Homo sapiens: one gene and its partners. The protein of the gene in region 1 purifies or fractionates together with the protein of each later gene. This does not show direct contact. Each region holds a gene or a part of one and is shown on either strand. Other genes may lie near its edges.

The links.
Region 2: the proteins of FAM174C (region 1) and RAB11FIP2 purify together in Homo sapiens (affinity purification with mass spectrometry; one large-scale study listed by BioGRID and IntAct). This does not show direct contact.
Region 3: the proteins of FAM174C (region 1) and SLC41A1 purify together in Homo sapiens (affinity purification with mass spectrometry; one large-scale study listed by BioGRID and IntAct). This does not show direct contact.
Region 4: the proteins of FAM174C (region 1) and GPATCH11 purify together in Homo sapiens (co-immunoprecipitation; one large-scale study listed by IntAct). This does not show direct contact.

Annotation. Positions count from the first base shown.
Region 1 is NC_000019.10:1,273,497-1,278,881, forward strand, and holds the start of FAM174C (protein FAM174C precursor), read left to right. Parts: upstream 1-2,033; 5' UTR 2,034-2,053; coding exon 2,054-2,334; intron 2,335-3,686; coding exon 3,687-3,803; intron 3,804-5,280; coding exon 5,281-5,281; 3' UTR 5,282-5,385.
Region 2 is NC_000010.11:118,003,464-118,007,185, reverse strand, and holds the end of RAB11FIP2 (rab11 family-interacting protein 2), read left to right. Parts: 3' UTR 1-2,270; downstream 2,271-3,722. UniProt on the Homo sapiens protein: A Rab11 effector binding preferentially phosphatidylinositol 3,4,5-trisphosphate (PtdInsP3) and phosphatidic acid (PA) and acting in the regulation of the transport of vesicles from the endosomal recycling compartment (ERC) to the plasma membrane.
Region 3 is NC_000001.11:205,802,247-205,807,205, reverse strand, and holds part of SLC41A1 (solute carrier family 41 member 1), read left to right. Parts: intron 1-4,959. UniProt on the Homo sapiens protein: Na(+)/Mg(2+) ion exchanger that acts as a predominant Mg(2+) efflux system at the plasma membrane.
Region 4 is NC_000002.12:37,087,011-37,091,969, reverse strand, and holds part of GPATCH11 (G patch domain-containing protein 11), read right to left. Parts: intron 3,602-4,959; 5' UTR 3,589-3,601; coding exon 3,530-3,588; intron 2,331-3,529; coding exon 2,104-2,330; intron 1,290-2,103; coding exon 1,248-1,289; coding exon of another isoform or gene 1,244-1,247; intron 55-1,243; coding exon 1-54.

The DNA.
Region 1 (5,385 bases):
CAGGCCAGAGAGCAGAGGCACGTGGCATCCCAGGGCGACCTCAGACGGCCAGCCGGTTAGCTAGTTCTGCTGTTGCTTCACGAGTTCTGAGCATTCTCTGCTAGCCTATGGAAGCTGCAGCCCTCGGAGGACAGAAGTGTTGTGCGCCCAACAGAACCCTCTGAGACGCAAGCTGCTCCCTTGGCTAGCTCATATGTGGAAATAGCCCTGTAATTCGAGGTAACTCCTTCCGCTCGTGTCCACATCCCTCTTGTTGAGAGCTCACTGAAAGTCATGTGCCCGGGGAATGTTCCTGTGACTGTTTTTTGTTTTTCCTTTTTTTTTTAACTTTGTTTTTGTTTTTTTCAATTAAGCTGGAACTAAAGTCAGGCCCAGCCATTACGCTCCCCACGTGCAGCCAGGTGCAGCCTGGGCCCAGTCATGCCTGGCTCATAGATGAAATCCCTTAAGCAGGATTGAAGACCAGTGAACGCCCCCGCCTTTTGGATTTTTTGCTCAATTGACCGTCTTTTCCAGACCTCTTTAAGTCACACTCTTAACTTAGCTTTCTCTGATGTCTGTTGCCGCCATTAGTTTTTTTCTAGAGCCCACACTGGCCCACATAGCTCCATCCCATACGGGTAGCTGGCTCCAGCTGCGCCAAGGTGCAGACCCGCCCTGGGCATGCTGGCCTGTGACGGAGCCTGAGGTCACAGCCCCCTGACTAGCCTGAGACCTTCCTAGGGGCTGTGGCTGTTTCCGGGGAGGCCGGGAGGGGCAGCTGTGAGCCCTGTGGAGGACGTTGGGAGTAACGCTGCTTTGCTTTGGCAGGTTGAAGGGGCCCGGCCAGGACTCGGGGAAGGGTGGCCTGAGAGCAGCGATGACCTCTGGGGTCACTGTCCCAGGAGGGACTTCACCTGGAACAAGAGCTGGAGGCAGCCGCTTGCCCAGGAGGCTTGTCCCCTGTAAGTGCTTTCGGGAAGAGTGGCATGTGGCGCTGAGCCCTGTCCCGGGCGGCACCTGGGCGTTTCAGTGAGTCCTGCTCTCCCGCACCTATGGCCCCATGGCGGGCGCCTTTCGGTGTGTGTTGGGTGCAGGGCAGCGCCTCCCGGGAGCGCCGGGTCCCCCGCCTGGAGCCCGCGCCTGTTCTCCCTCCCTTCCTCCTCCTTCCAGGAGGCGCTTCGCCAGTGAGGTGCGGGCTCAGGGCCTCGAGTCTCTCCTGGAGCACGGGCTGCGGTGCGCCGGCAGCTTACGGGGCGGCCAGTCCTTGCCCACAACGATGTGGAGCCCTGTGAAAGTCGGATTCGAATAAAGGGCCACGTGTGCACCCAGAAAGCCGAGTCTGTGGTTCAGGGGGGTCTGTCGGCGGAGCGGGGCCACTGGAAGAAAAGCCTGCGGACCTCGGTTCAGCGCACGAGTAGGACCCGACAGGGAAGACTGCAAGGGTCATTGTCCGAGCAGTGACCGCGGGGGGCTCGCCACTGAGGGGGTTCGCAGCGCGGAGACTCCAGTCTCGCGGGATCTGAGGCGCACTCGGCTTCGAGGGAGCGGCGGCCGCGCAGCCGCTGTCAGGCCCCGTCTTGGGCCGAGTCCCGGGTTCCCTGTAGCAGGCTTGGGAGCGGGGCGCCACCTTCCTGGGCCCTGGACGTGGCCGACGCGTTCTCAGTGTCCGTGAGGCCGGGGCAGGAGTGGCGGGGGTCGCCCCGAAGTGGGTGGGAATGAGCGGCCCGAGGTCCTGAAGTCGGGGTCCGCCCCGTCTCCCCGCTGCCAGCCCGATTTCCTCGGAAGCCGCGACCCCCCACGCTGGGCTGGCAGTTCTGGGCTCTGCCGGCTGCGCCTTGCCGGGACTCCCACGGGCGGGCTCCGGGCCTCCGTCCTGATCCCTTGGAGCGGTTCGACGAAGCAAGTTCCGCGGCGGGCGCGCGGGGCACTGTGGGTAGCGCCGGGGCTCACCAGGCGGAGGCGGGGCCCGGCGTCAAGCTCCGCCTCCGCGCCCCATTGGCTGGCATCACCTCCGCGCGCCTGACTGACAGCGCGCATAGGGGCGGGGCGCCGCCACCGCTTCCGCCGGGCCATGGGGCCGCGCGTGCTGCAGCCGCCGCTGCTGCTGCTCCTGCTGGCGCTGCTGCTGGCGGCGCTGCCGTGCGGTGCCGAAGAGGCCTCGCCGCTGCGCCCCGCGCAGGTCACGTTGTCGCCGCCGCCGGCCGTGACGAACGGGAGCCAGCCGGGCGCGCCACACAACAGCACGCACACGCGTCCGCCGGGGGCGTCGGGCTCGGCGCTGACGCGCTCCTTCTACGTGATCCTGGGCTTCTGCGGCCTGACCGCGCTCTACTTCCTGATCCGGGCGTTTAGGTGCGTCAGGCGCACGTGGGCGCCGTCTCTCAGCCTTGGCCAATTAGCGCGCGCCTAGTGCGTCACGTGCCGGGCCGCGGGGTCCTCCCCTCCCTCCCTCCCTCCCTCCCTCTCTCCCTGTTGGAGTGGGCGTGGGCGGTGCTGTGCGGGGTCGTCACGTGGTGTGGGCGGTGCAGGGGCCACGGGACTCACCCGCTCTCCAGCCTGCGCCTGGGGTTGGAGGTGCCCAGCGCGCCGCCTCTTAACTCGGGGGTGACGCTGCCCGTTTCCCAGGTGGGGCCACTGAAGCCGGAGCATGCCGGGCAGGGGTCAGGCCCTGGCGGGGCGAGGGGGCCTCCTTGGCTCCTTGTCGCCGGATGCCCGTCCTCGTTCTCATCTTCCCGCCTGCCGCCAGGCCTTTCCGTGGGGTCCCGATATTTTCCTTTCTGCTTCTACCCACTGAAGCTGGTTCGTCGCCAGGGTCGGCCACGTGCCCGCCTTGGGTGCTCCCACAGCCCGGGAGGTGCAGCTGCGTCCCCAGACCCTCGCGGGGGTCTCCAGCTGTAGGCAGCCCCTGGGCAGGAGGGGCTTCTGCGTGTTCAGGCCACCCCGGCTTCCCTGGCCTGTGGCTCCAGTCTCCTCTGGGCTCCTGACTACCCAGTGTGGCTGCTTCTCCCGGGTGGGAGAGACACAGCGAGGACCTTATCCCTCCCCATCACCACCCTGGCAAAGTCAAGCCGCTTTTTATTTTTTATAAGTTTTTATTGTAGCGATGGGGTCTCGCCATGTTACCCGCGCTGGTCTGAACTCCTGGGCTCAAGTGATCCTTTTTCGTTGGCCTCCCAAAGTGCTGGCATTATAGATGTGAGCACCTGCACTCCGCCATGCTGCTTTTTATGGGCCCTGTGCAGAGCCTCCCCTGTGCTCCACACCTCTTCCTGTGGAAGCACCTGCTGCGCGCTCTCCCCTGCCTGTATGCCGCGCCCTCCCTGCCTCCCGGGCTGCTGGGGCCACCAGGGGCTTGGCCCTGAGACAGGCTTCCATTCTGTTGTCTTTGGCAAAGTCTCACCCCTGTGTGAGCCTCAGTCTTTTCATCAGTGCAATGGGAGTGACATCAGCGTGCCTCTCCTGGGGTCCTGGCGCAGGGGAGATGGGAGGGCCTGGTAGGGCACATGTCTTCTTACTGTCATCGCCATGGGAGTGAATGGTAATCACTTGGCGATTAGGACATGAAAGAAGCAGGCACAGCAAAACCAGGGAGGTCTGCAGCAGGGCTCGGGGCTCCAGTAGAGGACGGCAATGAGAGTCCTGAGGGAAGGAGGAGGCAGGGTTGGCGGGGAGGGGCCACTGACTATGCCTGGACCTACTTCCAGGTTGAAGAAGCCTCAGCGGAGGCGATACGGCCTCCTCGCCAACACTGAGGACCCCACGGAGATGGCCTCGCTGGACAGCGACGAGGAGACGGTGTTTGAGTCCCGGAATCTGAGATGGTGTGCACCCTTCCCCAGCTCTGGGGCCTCGGTGGGCAGGCTGGGCTGGAGACTCAGCAGGACCCTGGGGACTTGGCCAAGCCATGGAGTGGTCCCTGCAATCACAGCTGACAGCGGTAGTCAGGCCATGGCCCCACTGGGCAGGGCTCATCCCTTCTCCCAGCCTCCATTTACAACTTTTTTTTTTTAAACTTAAATGTTTGTCATTTATTTATTTTTGAGGTGGAGTGGCGCGATCCCAACTCACTGCAACCTCCGCCTCCGGGATTGAGGCGATTTTCCTGCCACAGCCTCCCGAGTAGCTGGGATTACAGGCACCCGCCACCACGCCTCGCTAATTTTTTGTATTTAGTAGATAGAGATGGGGTTTCACCATGTTGGCCAGGCTGGGTTCCAGCTCCTTACCTCAGGTGATCCATCTGCCTGGGCTTCCCAAAGAGCTGGGATTACAGGTGTGAGCCACCGCACCTGACCTAAGTTTTGTTTTGTTTTGAGATGGAGTTTCGCTCTTGTTGCCCAGGCTGGAGTGCAATGGCACGATCTCTGCTCACTGCAACCTCCACCTCCCAGGTTCAAGCATTTCTCCCATCGCAGCCTCCTGAGTAGCTGGGATTAAAGGTGCTCACCACTACACCCGGCTAATTTTTGTAGTTTTAGTAGAGACAGGGTTTCACCATGTTGGCCAGGCTGGCCTCGAACTCCTGACCTCAGGTGATCTGCCCGCTTCGGCCTCCCAAAGTGCTGGGATTACAGGTGTGAGCCACCGTGGTCAGCCTTCTTGCTTTTTTAAGGCAGGAAAGCGGCTGCAGGGCTTAGGGTAGTGGTTGCTCCATCTGGGCCCCTCCCTGAGGGATGAGGTCTAAGTCAGGTGGAGAACTGACTGCAGGATGCTTCTGAGCGGGCGGGGTCAGGGAGGGCCTCTCCCTGGTGTAATGGGGCTGGCTTCTGGAAGAGTGTCTCAGGCCGAGGGAACAGCAGGGAGCGGCCGGGCTGCGCAGATGCCGGGCGGGACTGGGGTAGGCCTGGGCATCGAGGCAGCTGTCAGGGGTTAGCAGGGTTCTGGGCAGGGAATGATGGGTATGTTGCGCTGCAGTGTGGCTGCTGGGGGGACCTTGGCCTGTTGGGGGGTGGCAGGCATGGAGGCTGGGAGACCAGGAGACTGGGCGGCCTCTGGGGACAGCTCTGACTTTTTGAGCCCCCAGGGAGGGAGGCACTGGGATCCCTCCGCATGCTCTGACTCCATTCTGGGAACCCCTCCCAGGTTTCTTCTACCTCCTGGCTGGGGGCCCCTTCCCCCGGAGTGGGCAGTTGCACAGGGCCCAGGAGGCCGGGGAGGGAGGCCAGTGGGGGGAGGCTGGGCCCTGGTAGACCGAGGGGCCTGGACAGGCTGCCTGCCCCTGCCTGACCTGGGTGAGCCTCTGCCCGGCAGGGCGGGCCCTTCACTCCTTCCCTCTCACCCTTGACCCCCTGCTTTCAGATGCTGAGCCAGGGAGGCGGCCCTTCCAGCAGCCATGAGGGAAGGACAGGAGATGGGGCCCACCCCAGTGCCCAGCAACCCCCTGCTCCACCGCTCATTCCCCTG
Region 2 (3,722 bases), on another chromosome or scaffold:
TAGTTTTTTTTTTTTTTTTAAACATGGTGCCACTTTTAATTAACTAAATGTTACAAAATTCTCAGCATTTGTTTTTGTCTGGTAGTATTATTGAGTCTTTTCATACACTTCTTAAAATGTGAAAATCTATGTTTTCAGTATTATGACAGTATCTGCAGATACTATAATAATATGCTTTGGCCAAATTTGCTGTTTATAGAGTGAACCAAGATGTCAGTTTTGTATTGGGGATATGTTTTACATAAATAGAACTCATTTAAAAGTATGGTTCAAGTACTGCTCTTCTTTTTATGGGGAAATTGATTTTTAAGGAGCGATTCTTTTCCTATATAAAAGCTATTGAGGCTTAGCTTTATTCATACATGAGTGATTTGGTTATAACTCAATCAAAATTTTTATCTTTAAATCTGAGACAAGTATTATATTTAAAACTAGATCTATTAATACATTCATCACTGCCTGAAAATTTGCTGTTCTAATGTTTGTGAATTTTCACTCATTACCTAGAGTAAACTTATTGCATATTTTCATAATCAGTCAAAATAATAAAACTAAAAACAAAAAGTAAAAATTAGTTCCCAAGTAAATATATCAGTGTTTCCTGTGTTTGGGCAGAAGTGCAAAGTAGTTTTAATTTCTCACGTTGTAGAAAAAGAGGCCAAAAAGGTCACCTTAGTTTATTTTTCCAAAACATAACTTTAGGTATTCTAATGTATTTTGTTAGTTGCTTAGAAATGGAAATAAAATATATGTGCTTATTAAATAATGCACAGTACACTAGATTATAGAGTTTATTTTTGCTTTTATGCTTTAAAGAATGCATGCCCAAAACACTACTACCAACAAGAGGATTTTTTAAAATCACAGAATTGATATTTATCTCAAGACTATCTTAAGCTAATGTACTTCTGTTACATAATTAAACTATTTCTGCTATTATTTTTAAAGCAGTATTATTTTATAACCAATTCTAAAATTCAGCTTTAAAAATATTGAACATACCTTCCTACCACTTACGCTTCAAGTTTCATTTATTGAATACCAGGGTCATATCTTAGAATTGTATATAAAACAACATGTAACCCATTCATGAAAAACGTTTTTAAGTATTGCTTTTTGCTGCTATGTTCTGCATTGAGCCTAGTTTTGCCATTGTCCCCTGAATGTAGTATTATCTATAGATTATACATAACTACATCTATTGCTTTTGGTGGTAAATCAAGATTTAGTTGTAATTTTCCAGCTGTGAAAATGTTGCCTTGTATTTAAAAGGGTTTCATGAATGGAAACCTAAGTAAAACTAAGCTCATTAGTGACAGACTTGTTTTCTTCTTGTTATTCCTCCAGCAACTCCCTCACCACCACGCCTCCCTGCCTACCATCCCCGGAAGGGTGCTTATTCTTTAACAAAGAGAATCTAAAAAAAAAAACAAAAAACTGTTGTCTAATATATCTACAGTAAATGTTACACTAGAGCTTTTATTTTCCTCTGTAGCTTTTCAGAAGAAGCAATTTACCTTGGATTTGTAAATCAAGCTGAAACTTTTTTGATGTTCATGTACTCATATGTCTTGTAGGTGGTAGGTGTCACTTGTGTGTATGTGTAAGTGAAGTATGATGCATGCTCATTCACTTGGTCCCTTTGAAATAAGGGAAAGGATCACAGTGCTGCTGGGCCATGATGGTATGTAGAAGGGTCTGTCAGCACACATGGAAAGCCCCCATTTGCACAGATGTAGAACTTTAATAATCCAGATGCAATCATTGGAAGTATTTAATATGCAATTGGTAGCACCTTAGCTAATTAATCTGCATATGAAGCATTTTCTGATATATTTAATAAGAGGTATAGAAGCTCTTCAAGCATTAAAATAGAGTTGATGTTTCATTCCATTTGTTTTATCCATCAAAAAATGCACTCTCACAGTGGAGTTGAAGTCTAATACATGATACATGTGGGCCTGTTAGTCTTCGAAGCTTCCAGATGGTTTGTGTTTTGAGGTACAAAAAAATGCTGCAGATCTAGAAATGCATATATTTAGCGGGTATTTGAAAGATAGAAGCATTATTTATAACTGAAGAGTATAACACTTATCTTCTTAAGTAAATGCTCTCATAACTTGTATACATTTTTGCAGGTACAAATTCAAAAGTATGTAAGCATTGTATAATGTGACAATTGTATAATTTATGTAATCTGATGCATGAATCAGAATTTTTATATAATATATGATTATTGACTTATAGTTGATTAAAGTGTTTAAACTTAATTCAGTTGTCAACATTTATTACAGATACAGCGGTGTTACCATAATGGATTTATATATGAGTCCTCCTTGTTTTTTAATAAATACCTAGGATGCCTCTTATTTGGTGTATTGTAGCACATATTCTGTAAGACCTACAAACTTATTTTACTATGAAGATAGTTCTGAAAAGTCATTCAAAAGAGTAGTTTTTAAGTACAAGTGAACATTCTTCAACAAATGTGTGGATGCCCTCTACATATAAGACATCCCCTCATAGGGATGGAGCTTACGATTTAGTAGAAATGATATTTGAGTATTTATATATAGGCTAAGGTCTCTGCTGAGTACTTCCTATTTATGCTTTATTTTATTTCTCACAACAACCCTGTAAGGTAGGGAATGCACAAGCTTTCAGAGGAAATGTAAGAAAACCTTTTGTGGTACTGAAGAAAGTAGAATAGGGTTGGTACAGCCGGTAGCATTTTTCACCACTTCTTATCCTCCAGCATCTACCAGAAGTCATTAATCAGTCACCACTTCCAGTCCCCTCAACACAACAGTCTAAGTGCATGCCCCTCCATCCGAGGTATGGGTACATTTTTATGGCAGTGTATTAGGCAGTTGTATTCTAGATTATGGGACATGAACCATATGTAGTCTTAGACATAAATCATACATATTTGGCACAAGGGATTTCTCAGCAGACCAGAACGCCTTTCTGTTCTGGAATTGTAGTCCCTTCTGGAGGCCCGTTGAACCTGTCCCTCTACTTCTCCCAGCACATCTCCTTTAGATTCTTCTTTCCACCTGCCCACAGCATGCACGTTTCTTTTTCCTTACTCTGCTGAGGCAAAAATATTTGGAGTAATTTGGAAGTGGAGAGCTGTTATGAGTCTGTTAAGGTGGCCATTTTTCATGTAGGGCTTGTGACCTAAATGCCCAACATTTGACATTTTTCCTCAGATAATTTTGCATGATACCACAACTTCATACTTTTATATTTTTATGATTATACAGTTAATACTTATAAGCAATATTTAATTTTGTATTTATGTACCTATAATTACATGAACTAAAAGTGCTTAATTTTGATCTTACAGTCCTCACACCCTAAAACTTGATTCTTAAATGTTCAGTGGTTTCATCATTTGGCATACTGAAAAGCGAAATTTATGCTAGGAAGCACAAAATCAAATTTCTCTGTCAGAGGATTTCAATTAATGGTGTGTTGTGTTCAGATGTAAGGTATGGTATGGTTGGTCACTAACATTAGTACCAAAGTTTGCGCGTAATTTTTTAAAATTAGAACAATGTAAAGATTATTGCTATGATAGTGTTACATTCTGTTATGCTCTGGCAAATGATGGAAAAGTGTGTTGAGAGTGAGACTGGGGGTTATGTGCAGTTCCCAGCAAACTTTCTCATTTGTGCTGCAACCCTTAGTGCAGGAATTGCAAACTCAAACATTTACAG
Region 3 (4,959 bases), on another chromosome or scaffold:
AGGGAGATTGTTATTCCACATCCATGGGAGTAAAAGGGGGACTGACAATCTCAGATTCAGGAAGAGCGGGATGGTTTCTAAGGATTCACACCTATATTACCCCTTCATAAGCTAAGATGGACTTCAGTAAGAGAATCTGAAAGTGCCCCAAGACCATGGGGCCATCTGGAGAAGCTGGCTATGGAGTGTCCCCAGCATCTTGGAGCAACTGAGCAGGAGTCCATATTGGGCCTGGTTCAGATGTCTCCTTGGTCCAGGGCCCCCATCTTTCCTTGCTGCTGTAGAAAACTTGGTTTCTTTTTCACCAACGAGATGCAAAAAAAATAAAAATAAAAAGTTGAATTTTAATTTTAATTTAAAAGAAAAAGAAAACCCACTCTCTTCCTAGAAGGGTCATTTCTGCCTCCTCTTATCTGCCCTCCCGTAAATGTGCACAGCAGCATCTGCAGTGAAATAAGGGGCTGGTGCTGGCCCAAAGTAGGAAAAGGATAAATGGACCTCCATCTGCTCTAACTTCCCAACCATGGCTGAAAGTTCCTGCAGCATCTGGAAGGGAAGCAGGCTGGGGCCTGGTGTTGGCTTCTGAAGGGGGTTGGGATATGGGAGCCTCCTCACTGCAGGAGCCTTGTGCCCATCTGCCCAGTTTGGTCCTAGGCTGCTCCGGATGTCTCACTCCCTTTATCTGTCAGCCTTTGTGAGGGATGGGGTGACAGGAAGTAGTGTGCCCATCTGCACTTTAATTCCCAGCTAGGTTAAGACAGGTCCTTATTTTAACTCACTACTCACCTGCTAAGGATCTTGAACAAAGTAGATCCTGCTGTGTATACAGAAGTCTACAACGATGAAAGTGCATGGCAAGCGTGGCCTTGGGGAAGTAGAGTGGGAAGGAAGTATTCCTCCTGTGCCTGGCCTGCTCCTGTGGCCGCAGCATCCCTGGGCGGGACACTCTTATCTGCTTCACTTGACCACCCCTTCTGCTTTTCCCATCTCTGTCCCCTGCCTGCTGTCAGGGACCCATTTGCTTTGCTCCTGCTTTGTCCTGCACCGTATATCCAGGTGTTGCCCTAAAGCCCTTTCCTGGACACCTAGAGGATGCCTTTTGGAAAAGCCTCAGACAGGTGAAGCCTGGGGTTACTGTAATCTCATCTGACCCAGTCCTTACCCTAAAAGATCAGCTCCAGCCCAGCTTCTCCCACAGGAGCCCAGATTCTCCCCAGCCTGGAGCCTAAAGCTTGTATCTGGGAATTTAAGTCTTCTTAATGTCTTGATTCCTGGCTCTGACTTTCTTCCCTGCTGCTACCCTCCTGAGGTGGCTCAGGCCAGAACCCTTGAAGGCAGGTCAGGGTCAGTGTATGAGCTTGGATTGGAGTAGGTGAAGGATGGAAGAGGCGCATTGGAAGGGCAAGGAAGAGGTACTGGCAGGACCACTGAGGATCGAGACTTAAGGTGATTGCTGTGCCTCAGGATTCATTTTGGCTATGGGGGAGGCAGTCTATTCCCTCACCTGCAGAATACCAGGGATCCATGAGCCCCTCACACCAAGGTTAGAGAAGGAAAGAGATGAGGAGCTGCATTTCTGAGAAGTAGTTAAAATCTAGATGCTCCCCTCACCTCCAAGCAGGGCAGCACTTCCTGGAACATGCCCTTTTTCATCCCCATCAGAGCAGGAAGGCGTGGGTGGCTGCTTGGCAGACGGGTGTGACTTCAGGGGCAGATACTCCTAGCCTGGATGAACAGGATGGGGCTGAATTTGGCCAAAGGAGGAAGAAGAGCTACTCACTGTCTGCCCCTGCCCATCCTGTCTACTCCTAACCTTAAGGCCACCTTGATTCCTGGGCTGGCTCCACATCTCCAGCCTCCAGCATCTCTTTCCAGAGTCCTATGCATGCCCATGTGTCAGAGGCTTTCTGCCTGAGCTGCAGCTTTGAGAGGGTTTGTGGGTGAAGAAAGTATGTGTGTAGGAATTGGCTTCTCTGACCCAAGTGCCAACTCGGGGCTTTGCTGGCCTGGGGTCAGGTCGTTTGAGGTTCCAGGCTATATTCTGTAAGAGTCGGGAAGACTTTTGCATAGGGGCTGTTACTGTGACTGCTCCCTCTCCTTGCCTGTCTGTCTCTTATCCCACTGCTCCTAACACTCCGTACTTTGTAGATCCTCCTGTAGCTATAAGGAGAGGGTGCATTGTGCTGGGAGGTAGAGAGATTTGGGGTGCTTATGGTAGCAACCAGAGGAACTTAGCTGAGCTTTATACATTTTTCTTAAATAATAATAAAAGCAAGCAATATTCATTACAAACAGCTCAGAAAACATTGCTTGCATACATGTGGAGTCTTCTTGTGGGCTTTTTCTTTCTATGAGTACATGTACATTACATACACCTACCTGTAGAAGTCAGATTTTCATGGAGCTGGCAGCTTGGAAGCAGGGTGGAGCTGGTGTTTTGGGGTGAAGATGAGCTCTGAGGCTGTGCTCTGAGAGGAGCTTTGAAAGCCCGCAAGGGAGGGGAGAAGAGGGGGATTTTTCCCCTCTCTGGAGCTGGTTTGGGAGGAAGCAGGAGGCGAAGCAGAGCAAGGCCAGACTGCAGGGAGCTGGAGCCTCAGTGGTATGTACCAGCCGTGTCCAAGAGTAACAGTCCCCAAGTTGCTCCAGGGCAGATGGGGCTCACTGGGGCTGCCTTCTCTCTGGGGGGTCTTAGGGTGGGAAGGGATTCACTTCCCTTCAGTGTTTGGAGAGGGCTGGCTCATCCTTTGGCTGCCTGGAAGCCCAGTAACTGTTGTTGAGATGGGGGGCAGTCTCTTCCCCATTGTTAGTCCCTACGGTGGGGCTTCCCTAAGGAGAGTCCCAGGTCTTGGCCAGACCAGAAGCTCAGGCAAGCGTATGCTCCAGCCCCAGTGAAATGAGTCCTTCCCCAGGATCCTGTGAGGCCTCCCACCCCATTCACACAGGGAGAGCTCCGACAGGAAAAGAGAGGTTCTTGCCTTATAGGGCCACCCAGCGCCCAGCCTCTCCTGGTCTCAAGCCCTAGCCCCACCCCCTCTGATAGCCTTGCTTATCTTTTTGGTTATTGTGGTAAAAAATGTGTAACATAAAATTTACCATCTTAACCCTTTTTTAAGTGTGCTGTTCAATAGTACTACGTATATTCACCTCATTGTACAACAGATCTCCAGAACTCCTCATCTTCCCCAGCTGAAGCTCTGTACCTATTAAACACTCACTCTTTTCCCTGCTCCCCCAGCGCCTTGCTTCCACCATTCTTCTTTCCGCCTCTATGAATTTGACTACTTAGGCTGGGCTCGGTGCCTCATACCTGTAGTCCCCACACTTTGGGAGGTCGAGGCGAGAGGATCCTTTGAGCCCAGGAGTTCGAGACCAGCCTGGGCAATATAGTGAAACCCCTGTCTCTACAAAAAATACAAAAATTAGCCAGGTGTGGTGGTGCATGCCTCTAGTCCCAACTACCCGAGAGACTGAGATGGGAGGATGGCTGGAGCCCGAAGCCATGATTGCACCACTGCACTCCAGCCTGGGCCACAGAGTGAGACCGTGTCTCAAGAAAAAAAAAAAAAAAAAAAAGAATTTGACTACTTTGGATACCTCAGATAAGTGTTTTTTATCTGAGTGTTTTATCATACAGTGTTTTTTATGACTAGAGTAATGTCCTCAAGGTTCATCCATGTTGTGGCATATGACAGGATTTCCTTCCTTTTTAAGGCTGAGAAATATTCCATGGTATATATGTACCACACTTTGCATATTTTGTTTATCCATTCATTCCTTGATGGACATTTGGGTTGCTTCCACCTCTTGGTTATTACATATAGTGCTACTATGAACATGGGCATATTAATATATCTTCAAGACCTTGCTTTCTATTCTTTTGGATAAATATCCAGAAGTGGGATTGCTGGATCATGTGGTAGTTTTATTTTTAATTTTTTGAGGAACCACCGTACTGTTTTTCATAGCAGCTGCACCATTTTATAGTCCCACCAAGAGTGCACAAGGGTTCCAATCTCCACATGCTTTTTTCTTTTCTTGAGACGGAGTCTTGCTCTGTCACCCAGGCTGGAGTGCAGTGGCACTGTCTCGGCTCACTGCAACCTCCAACTCCCAAGTTCAAGCAATTCTTCTGCCTCAGCCTCCCCAGTAGCTGGGATTACAGGTGTGCGCCACCATTCCCGGCTAATTTTTGTATTTTTAGTAGAAACAGGGTTTCACTATGTTTGCCAGGCTGGTCTCCAACTCCTGACCTCAAGTGATCCACTTTCCTTGGCCTCCCAAAGTGCTGGGATTACAGGCATGAGCCACTATGCCCAGCCCAAACTCTACATCCTTGCTAACACTGATTATTTTCTGGGTTTTTAAATAGTAACCATCCTAATGAGTGTGAGGTGATCTCTTACTAATCTACAGTATTGCTCAACTTTATTTTATCTATTTTATTTTATTTTATTTTATTTTATTTTATTTTATTTTATTTTATTTTTGAGACAGAGTTTCACTCTTATTGCCCAGGCTGGAGTGCAGTGGTGCGATCTTGGCTCACTGCAACCTCCACCTCTTGGGTTCAAGCGATTCTCCTGCCTCAGCCTCCCGAGTAGCTTGGGATTACAAGCATGTGCCACCACGACCAGCTAATTTTTGTATTTTCAGTAGAGACGGGGTTTCTCCATGTTGGTCAGGCTGGTCTCAAACTCCTGGCCTCAGGTGATCTGCCCGCCTCGGCCTCCCAAAGTGCTGGGATTATAGGTGTGAGCCGCTGCGCTCGGCCACTGCTCATCTTTAACGACAGAGTGTGGGTGTTGGAATTGCCTTGAAAGACCATCTGATCTGGTCCCTGAATTGAACATTTTTCAAGAGCTTGAGGCCCTTGTAACTTGTCTAAGGTGTCCAGCCGGTCTACGTGAGGAGGTGTACTGGGGAGATAAGCAGGGGGCCATCCCTGCTGTCTCCTGTAGG
Region 4 (4,959 bases), on another chromosome or scaffold:
ATTTTTCCTCTGCTTTCCGTTTTAATGATGCCTCATGACCAATGCCACTTTTCCCTATTCAAACAGAAAATTCTGATGAGAAACATCCTGACTTTGTGCTTCAAAACAAGACGATTTAACTATGTACAAATTAAATGCAATTCTCATTTGAGTACTATCACTCACAAATCATTTGAGTACACTAATAGTAGAAAACACTAGGGTTTTTTTTAAGCCCAAAACATAATCTGATTTTTACAAAGATTGTTAATCTCATCTTATAGTAATATTATAAACAATTTTTCAAATCAGAAAAACAGTATTAGCTGTTATAGTTTTATTTAAATATGAATAAAATATATCTTTTTCTCTTGAATTCATCCAAGTATTAAGCAAAACATTTGGTAGATAAATCTGTCTCAGAACACTTTTATTTTATTTTATTTTTATAGGGACAGGCTGGTATGTAGTGGCACAATCATGGCTCACTGTAACCTCGAACTTGTGGGCTCCAGGAATCGTCCCGCCTCAGCCTCCTGAATAGCAAGGACTACAGGTGCGTGCCACTACACCCGGTTAATTTTTTAAATTTTTTGCAGAGATGAGGTCTTGCTATGTTGCCCAGGCTGGTCTCAAATTCCTGGCTGCTTTTTTTTTTTTTTCCTTGAGATGGAATTTCACTCTTGTTGCCCAGGCTGGAGTGCAATGGCGCAATCTTAGCTCACTGCAATCTCTGCCTCCTGGGTTCAAGCGATTCTCCTGCCTCAGCCTCCCAAGTAGCTGGGATTACAGGCATGCACCACCATGCCCGGCTAATTCTGTATTTTTAGTAGAGATGGGGTTTCTCCATGTTGGTCAGGCTGGTCTTGAACTCCCAACCTCAGGTGATCTGCCTGCCTCGGCCACCCAAAGTGCTGGGATTACAGGTGTGAGCCACCACGCCCGGCCAACTCTTGGCTTTAAGCAATCCTTCTGCATCGGCCTCCCAGAGCAAAACAGTTTTAAGACATTTCAATGGACAAAAACAGTATTGCACATTCAATGGTTGTAATGATTTGTTCTTCCCATATTCGTGTGGTTTAAATTTTATTTTATACTCACTAAAACTTATTTCTTTTCTGGTTGAAGAGGTTTAGAAATTTAACAAAATTTTACTGAACTGTAACAGTATTATCATTTAAAAAAAAGTATTTATTGAGCAAATATATGTGGTAGACCTAAGCGTAAGTTATTATTATTGGCAAATATGCTCCAAAATAATTACGTACCTGTTTTGATATTGAGAGGAATTGGTTCAACAATACCACCCCCTTAAAGAGAATGAATACAAACTATTTTAGAAAATTTTCCTCAAACTACAGAACAGTATAAGTATGCAACTTTACAATGCTCTATGCATATGCCCTCCTGTTTCAATGATATTCAAAATTGAAATCTGAACATCTATATATATTCTATATATAATCAATTATCTACCTTGTCTTCAAATACCTACTCATCAAAAAGGCTGATTCACAGCCTCCTATGCCACCTGAAGGTGGAGTTTTAAGAAGGAACAACACTGATATTATTGGTGCAAGACGGTGACAGCCTTAAGTGAAAGCAAAGCAATTACGATAAAGGAAAGAAAAACGGTTTACAGAGGTTACTATAAATATATAGCCTCTCTAGCTTAATAAGCAGTTTCACTTCCTAAAAAGAGAGGTGAGAATTGAGCCTCTCCAACTGGACGGTCATTCAGATGGCTGCCACAGGTACAGAGCAAGCAGGGCAAAGTCTTGCCATCATCCTCAGTGTTGTTTCAATGTATTTAGCCATTGCACTTCTCAACCCATCACTTATCACCATTCTTTGCTTCTTCTGTTGTAAGCCACATCCATCTAGGTTGTTAGTGCCTTCAGCTAAGCTGGGCTGATAAGCAGCTCTTGATGGCACATGTGGTATCTAAAATGGATGTGGGATGATGAAAAGCTCTCCATAAGGCTTGTTAATACATAATAGACTAAAAAGCCTAAGTTGTTATAATTTCTGTGTAGATAAAGATTAAAGCATCAGCTTTGGTCCTTATCCATAAGTCACAATTAGGTGGTAAGGAATACCTGTTTATTTCCACATGTGACTTACCACTCTTGCCAAGTGCCTGACCACTTTTATAGCCCATCTTTTGGAGCAAGGCAAACCCTTTGTTTTCACAGCCTAGTGCATTCTTCAACCCAATGTCACGTCTTTCTTGTTCTTCTTCTTTTAAACTCTTCTGCCTGTTTTTCAAATTGGCTTCCTGTTGCTTTTCTTCTTTTCGACGGGCTTCTCGGATTTGCCTTAGCATTGGCAATCCTGGTCTGATATCTTCTCTGAATAAGGGAAAAGTTTATTTTAGATGAGTCCATAAAGTTTTCTTTTCTTTTTTTTTTTTTTTATTTTTTGAGACGGAGTTTCGCTCTTGTTGCCCGGGCTGTAATGCAATGGCATAATCTTGGCTCACTGCAACCTCCGCCTCCTGGGTTCAACCGATTCTCTTGCCTCAGCCTCCTGAGTAACTGAGATTACAGGCGCCCACGACCATGCCCGGCTATTTTTTGTATTTTTAGTAGAGACGGGGTTTTGCCATGTTGGCCAGGCTGGTCTTGAACTCCTGACTCCAGGTGATCTGCCCGCCTCAGCCTCTCAAAGTGCTGGGATTACAGGCGTGAGCTTCCACGCCTGGCCAAGTTTTCTCATAACTCTGTCACTTACTCACCTGACAACAGTTAATATTTCGGCACTACCTCTATGATCATCTTTGTTATTATGATATTAGAACATAATCAGTGACCTCTAAGAATGGCTGTTTTAGTAGAAATGATGAAGGCTGGTGCCAGATCATAGGAAAATAAGGAAAGCACGAAGTTGAAGAAATCAGATATAGTAAGTTTAGACTTACTATGTTTCTAGGATGTTGGCAATAATAAAGAACAAAGTTGTATAGCAGCTAGAAGAGACAATATGATGTAATAAAGGAAAAGGAGTAAATTTCCTTGGAAGAAGGCAATAAAAAGGATCAAGGGCAAAAGTAAAATGGTTAGCATTAAAAGGAGGAAGTAGATTCTAGTATCTTTCTATGGTGACATAGGAGGTATTTCCATAAAGCAAGAAGACTGACTTTCCCACTGCACATTTAAAATCACTGTCAGGCTGGGCACGGTGGTTCATGCCTGTAATCCTAGCACTTTGGGAGGCCAAAGCCGGAGGATCGCCTGAGCCCAGGAGTTGGAGACCAGCCTTGGCAACACAGTGAGACCTTGTCTCTCCAAATAATAAAAAAGAAGAGTTAGCCGGGCATGATGGTGCAGGCCTGCAGTCCCAACTACTCGGGAGGCCAAGATGGGAGGATCTCCTGAGCCTGGAGAGTTTGAGGCTGCAGTGAGCTAAGATTGTGCCACTGCACTCCAGCCTTGCTAACAGAATGAGACCCTGTCTCAAAAAAATAAAATAAAATAAAATAAAATCAATGTCATTTCTTAATCTACACATCTTATACATATCATTGCACTGGGTGTGCACATTTACTTACTGGACATTAATGAAGGAATCAGACATATAGTCCTCTTCTTCTGCCATGTTCAACTTCATATGGCTATAGTATCTACAAATAAAGTAATAATTACTTTTTTTTTTAGTTTATCAGAATGGAAATAAACCTTTCTGTATCTGCAGCCATGAGCTGTCTCTAGAGCTCTACTATATATTCAAGTGCCCTTTGGACATCTTTATCTGTGGACATTTCAAACTCAACAATCTAAACAACTCATTTCTTTCCCCTTTCCCCAGCCTTCTACATCCCCTGTGTTTCCATGTTGATGTCATCATTATCTCCTTCTTCCTGACCTCTTATGAAGCTGTCAAGTCTTCCTCCATAAAACTCCTCACAGACGTTTTCTCTACAGTTGTGACCACTGCTTTAGTTCAGGCACTTTTTTTTTCTCACCTGAACTATTACAACAGCTTCTTAATCAGCTTCTTAGTTGGTCTCCTCTTCCAGTCCATTCTCTGCACCCCATCCAGAGGTTTTTTGTTTATTTGCTTGTTTGTTTTTAAATACAAGTCAGGTCACGTTACTAGCCTGTTTCAAATCCTTCATTAAACCTGACCCTGTAGGCAGTGGGGGACCAGTCACTTTTGCAAAGCATGAGATGTTGTCCTTCATAATCTGACACAACTGTCCCTAAGGATTCATTATTCAAGCCCCATGGCTCCTCACTGCCCTCTGAACAGAGTACAAACATTTCTTCCCTGTAGGCCAAGGCTACCCTCCCTTCAGAAACCTCTCCTGACCACTCCAGGCCTTTCTCTACAGCACTTTATGTCCAAGCTGCTCATTTGGAAGTTGATATAGTTAACAACTCACTTATGTGGAAATATTTTGAGGGACAGTTTCTATCCAAAATAGTTAAAATCATGTAATTATTGGCCCTTAAAGGGTTAAAGTAATTTTCTACAAAAGTACTTCTCAAACTTTATTGTGTATACAAATTGCACTGAGATCTTCTTAAAATGCAGAATCTGATTCTGGGGCTGGAACCTGAGGTTCTGCATTTCTAGCAGGTTCACAGGCAATGTCAATGTTGCTAGTTCAGTTGCTTAAGACAAAAGTGTATTCACTTGTTGTGGTGCATATGTACTGTTTTTTCCTGCCTACCATCTTTTCCTTTGGGAATCCAACCCTCTGCCCTTCATGTGGTTTTAGTGGAGGGTGGCAATGTCAGTATCCCATATTTCCTTGGGCACAAAGATGGTCAATTATAGTACTCTATGTCCAGCACCAGGGGACGAGATGACCCAGCCAGAGAAATAACCATCTTTTTCCTTACATTATATGAATATATGGGTTGTGGGGGAAAGAAGGTCTTTTATGGGTGTTTCTGAACTGGGAGAATGTGAAGCTGGGCTGTGGATGGCCATCTTCTTGGCCCCATGAAGGGATCTTGTCTGAAGAATGAAGCC